Regions from separate parts of the Homo sapiens genome. Here region 1 is linked to region 2. A link means that fine-mapping ties the variant in region 2 to the expression of a gene that starts in the linked region. Tissue or cell type: whole blood. Region 2 holds a variant in brackets; the other region holds the start of a gene. All regions are shown on one strand. Distances are from middle to middle.

Region 1 (2,683 bases), 310 kb after region 2:
AGAAGTAATAATCTACCCTAAATATTGTGTTAAACATTTTTTTTTAATAGTTTAACGAAATGTGTATGTTTCTCTAAACTTTCCTGGTGGCTTATTTTACATTCTGTTGTTTGTTGATAATGTTTTTAATTCCATCTATCATGTCCTTAAACATTTTAAATGTAATAATTTTAAATTTTTAATCAAATGAGCTCTGCCTCTGAAGTTTTGGGGGATATATTTCTGCCGTTTATTGTTTGTGCTGATTTTCAGTCACAGTGTCTTATTTTATTATTTGTTTTGTAATGTTTAAGTTTTGGACTTCTGTTTGGCTCATCTTCATCTGTGGGGAATGTGAGGGAACTGGGATCTCCAAAAGACATTTGCTTAGTTTCTAATTTCAGAGTGTATTGAATAAATATTTTGAGTAATCTTTTTCACTGGAAATTTCGTTTTATTCCAGTCCTCCTGTGAATATCCTGTTGTTTTGATTACTCTTCAATGCCACTCTCCTTAGAAGATGTACCTCATTCCGTGTGCATTTCGATATGTGGAAGTGTGTTGGGAGGTGGGGTCCCAAATTATTCATTCATTCTTCCTTCGTTTCATTCAGTATGCAAGCAGTCTCCTAAGTAGGCACTCTGAGTGATAAACTCCATGAGATGTAGTTTCTATCCTCAAAAAATACCGCCTTTGGTAGGGATAAAGTAAATAGACCTTAATATAGCTCTTGGACGAGCAGCCCTTGAATAAGTGGTCAAATAAATTTGTTGCAAATAAATACTTTCAGTCATTGTGTTTTAAGAATTATCATTTGTATGCATTGAGGAGAACTTCTACAGCTATTTGTCTTCAGAAAGGTTTTTTCTTTGTATTTCGAAGAATTTTGGCCTTAAAATTTCCAGCTTATTTTCAGACATTCATATCCATTCTACTTAATTGGCATTATAGTCATCAATTGTTGTCTCTTCCAACTCTGAGGGAATTGTCATAAAGGGAATTGTTCAGAAATATGTGTTTCCAAGCACTTGTTCACATATTTGTCTGGATCACATCTATCTGTTCTCTCGACGGCTTTCTTTAGTCGCACCTAAATGTTCCAAGACAAGGGTTGTGTCATTATTTGTATCTCTAGTGCTATTGCTTTTGACACATAGTCAAGGCTTCTCAACAGAAGTGTATCCAATTGGAATTTTTTCTCACCCTCGAAGAGCCAATTCCTTCACTAACGCAGACAAAAGGGGCGGGGGGCTCAGGCGCTGAGGATTCTGGGCACTGTAGTTCCGACGCTCCGGCTGCGCAGGCGCAATGCCCTGCCTGGAGGCCGGCACCGCCGAGCCGCCGCCATTGCTGGAAGCGTTCCCGCCCTGCTCTGCGAGTTCCCTCAGTTGTCCTCAGTTCGGCCGCCAGGTACTCGTTGTCCCGGGCGCCTGGCCTCGGTTGCCCGCCGCCCCTCCCTTGGCGCTTGGCTCCCGGCGGCGTCCGGGGCGTGGCCGTTCCCTCTAGAGCCCCTGTCCCTGAGCGGACCCGCCCACTCCTGAGAGGCGATTGGGGCTGGGCCTCCTTCCCGAGTGTGGGTTCAGTCTCCAGCTGGCCTCCCTCACAGGTAGGGCCGCGTGCCCTATGCGGCCTCCTAGTCCGGGTCCAAACCCGGGAACCCCCTCCCTGCGGGCCTGGCGGCGCTGGGGTTAAAAAGAGCCGGGCGCAGGGCGCAGGGAGTCGAGTAGGGCGGGCGGGCCCCTGACCCGACTTTCCCGGTCTTCCCAGCCCCGCGCCTTGCAGGCCCTGAGGAGGGCATACCCGAAGTGGGTAGAGGAGAGCAGTTAGGGAAAGAAGGCGAGGTTGGCAGGAGCATATCCGCTCTGGCTTCTGAACTGGCAGGGATGGAACTAGGTTCCACATCGGGGGACCTGCGCTACTCAGTAACCGAGGCAGCTTTTCCTGAAATGTCACATTTCAAATACTGTAATCACCTTTTAATCACTTGTCACTCCCTGACATGACAATGGTATTATTGCATTGGTTGGGAAATGCTGGACTGGTACATGGCGCTGAGATTCTCAGCAAAAACATGGACCCTTCATTATTTCTAAATAACTGCACTGGCCAAGGAAGCAAAACAAGTAAAGTTTCTCCTTAAGTCTCTGGATACGTTTGCAATAGTTGGAAAGACAGAGCTTGTAAATAGGGAAATTATAACTGGGGAATAGTGGCCTAGATATCTTCTGCATAATGACAAAGGGGACAGTAGAAACATATAAGGTGGCTACTGTCATGTACTAATAGCTGATTCGTTGTGCTCAAGTGACTTGCCTGTGGTCACAGTTTTACGGTAGCCAAAGCAGGGTTAGAACCTGGGGATGTGGCCAGCCACTCTGGGATTTTATTCCTATTCCACACTCCTATGTATAGGTAGATACTTCTTCTTGTCTGCTTGGAGAGTACAGAAAAGCAGAAAGAAGGGTAAACATCACAGCCCCAGGTCTCAGAGGTCTCAGTAGAGTTTTGGGTTACTCAGTCTTTTTTTCTATGCATTACATTTGCACAATTGAGATCAAGCTGAATATATTAAATGTTAAATATTGTTTATTCTAATTATAAAATAAAACAAGGGATTTATTGTAGTTTGGTTGTTAAACATATGTTACGAGCATAATCTACATAATCTACATAAAGTATTGCCAAAGAGTTTATTAATATTTAC
Region 2 (2,683 bases):
CCAGTTACATGCTTGTCATGTACACACCCTTGAGAAGATCTACAAAAGAAAGTCTAGAGTGTCCATTTTACAGGTCAGGAAAACTGAGGTTGTGCACAGCCAGAGTCCTTCCCAAGATGACTCAGCCGTGCTTTCCCCACCACGGGCACTTCACTCCGGCACACTCTGGGTCACTGAACCATGGCGAATCCGTTTTCAACATGAGCTGGCAGGAGGTGAAAATTATGATGGGTAGAAGTGGCTGTCCCCATTTCACAAACAGAAAACTGAGAAGGTGACTTGACCAGTTTTCCCAGGACCTAACTAAGTTCTTCTTCCTTTAGAACCAGCATGGGAGGCCGGGCGTGGTGGCTCACGCCTGTAATCCCAGCACTTTGGGAGGCTGAGGCAGGCAGATCACCTGAGGTCAGGGGTTCGAGATCAGCCTGACCAACATGGAGAAACCTCATCTACTAAAAATACAAAAATTAGCCGGGTGTAGGGGCACACACCTGTAATCCCAGCTACTTGGGAGGCTGAGGCAGAAGAATTGCTTGAACTCGGAAGGCAGAGGTTGCAGTGAGCCGAGATCTCACCACTGCACTCCAGCCTGGGGAACAAGAGTGAAACTCCATCTCAAAAAAAAAAAAAAAAAAAAAAGGCATGGAGATGGTGGACTCTCAACCTTGAACATCTCTGAAGGTTCATTCTGAGTGGAGGTGGGAGCAGGCAGGGGGGTCTTAGAGCCATTTTCAGTATTTCAAAATAGCCCGGGGAAAAAGCATATACAGCTCACAGAAACCAAAAGCCATCTTTTCCTCCTCCTCCTTCCTTCTCTCCTTCTCTTCCCTGTCTTCCTCATCTCTCTTCTTTTTCCCTTCTTCTCCTCTTCTGCCTCCTCTTCCTCATCCTTCTTTTCCTCCTCCATTTCTTCCTCCTTCTCCTTCCCAGTTAGCAGAAGCCAGGTTGTAAGGTCACCATCCATTCCCATGCACATCCCTCAGGTCTCAGGCTGCAGCCTTATCGGGGCACACACCCTATCTCTGCACGCTGGAATCCTCTCCTGCCCCTACCCCACTGGTGAGCTCAACTCATAGCCCCCAGCCCAAGTTTGCAGTCAGTGTTTGCTTGAAAGACTGGATGAGAAAGGCCGGGCTCTGTGGCTCACGCCTGTAATCCCAGCACTTTGGGAGGCCGAGG[C/T]GGGTGGATCAGGAGGTCAGGAGATCGAGACCATCCTGGCTAACACGGTGAAACCCTGTCTCTACTAAAAATACAAAAAAATTAGCCAGGCGTGGTGGTGGGCACCTGTAGTGCCAGCTACTCTGGAGGCTGAGGCAGGAGAATGACGTGAACCCAGGAGGTGGAGCTTGCAGTGAGCCGAGATGGTGCCACTGCACTCCAGCCTGGGTGGCAGTGCCAGACTCCGTCTCGAAAAAACCAAAAAAACAAAAACAAAAACAAAAACAAAACTTGATAAGAAATTCCTCCTATCTGCCAAGCTTTTACTGTTCCTTCTCTTTCAGTCACATCTACAGGTTTTCTTGGTGAAATTGTAAAGGGCAAGAATGAGGAGCCCACCCATCGCCCCAACCCTGCTCCTTCACTCCTGCACAGACACCTCCCCACCAAGGAGGAAAAGAGGGAGTTGGCTCACGCCAACAGGAATTGGCCCCTAAAATTTTTGTTGTCTCGATCCAGGTGTAGGCCTTGTCCAGCACAGCACTCCTTATCATAAGAAATGGCAATATTAATAAGGGCAGCAGCTCAGGGGGTTGTCTTTACTAACGTGCTCAATACCATACTAGGCACCTGCCATGCATATGCTGCTCACAGTGATTCTGTGAGTAAGCAACAGCATCCTCATCTTACAGGGGAGGACGCTGGGTGTCCAAGAGCAGAAGTCGTGCCCAAGGTCACACAGCAAGGAGTACCAGCCCCATGACTCACAGCCCAGGGTTCCAAGCAGGGCTGCCCTGTGGCTTTCCCCAGGCTCATCCCCAAAGTGGCTCAGAATCTGGTCCACTCCCCCTGCTGGTCCTTGACTTGTCCATTTTAGACGCTCTGGATTGATTCCCCACTTTCTAAGGTGAGAACTTAACTTGGACGTCACTATCTGCATGCATGCAGCTTCCCCTCCCCCGGCCCCCGGTGAAGGAGGGGTGCGTTTTCAGTTGGAGTCAAGATAGACCTGCTGGCTGCCGGCTCTGCTCCAGAATGTCAACTCCTCTGCAGTTTTGTTCTTCCCCTTCTCCTTGCTCTCTCCTAGAAAGCCTGTTTTTGCCTTTGCTCACTGACAATGGTCTAATGGCTCTCACAGTGAGTAAACTCTTTTACAGAAGGAATAATTCCACATCTCCACCTTATTTGTTGACTCAGATGGCTCATTTATTTATGACAATATAAATATTGCCCACAGCTGAGCTGCTGTACATGTCCTATGATTACCTTTCTTTTCCTTTCTTTTTTTTTTCTTTCTTTTTTTTTGGGGGGGGAGACCGAGTCTCACTCTGTGGCCCAGGCTGGAGTGCAGTGGCACAATCTTAGCTCGCTGCAACCTCTGTCTCCTGGTTTCAAGTGATTCTCCTGCCTCAGCTTCTCAAGTAGCTGAGATTACAGGCATGCACCACCACACCCAGCTAATTTTTGTATTTTCAGTGAAGACAGGGTTTCACCATATTGGCCAGGCTGGTCTCGAACTCCTGAC

Evidence for each region. PIP is the estimated chance that this variant, and not a neighbour inherited with it, causes the effect.
Region 1: it holds the start of ZNF624, and the variant in region 2 is fine-mapped to the expression of ZNF624 in whole blood (INTERVAL, PIP above 0.99).

What each region holds. Positions count from the first base shown.
Region 1 is chr17:16,652,470-16,655,152 of GRCh38, reverse strand. It overlaps ZNF624 (zinc finger protein 624), which reads left to right and starts at 1,303. Exons shown (of 6, transcript NM_020787.4): 1 at 1,303-1,389. It overlaps LOC124903934 (a long non-coding RNA gene), which reads right to left and starts at 1,261. Exons shown (of 4, transcript XR_007065639.1): 1 at 1,183-1,261; 2 at 1-1,069. RefSeq lists a silencer at 1,394-1,593 and an enhancer at 1,549-2,059.
Region 2 is chr17:16,962,294-16,964,976 of GRCh38, reverse strand. The region is part of intron 1 of TNFRSF13B (TNF receptor superfamily member 13B); the gene reads left to right. Among named protein-coding and RNA genes, the nearest start is that of TNFRSF13B, 8.5 kb to the left of the region's middle. RefSeq lists an enhancer at 145-414. The variant C/T (reference allele first, on the strand shown) is at 1,180.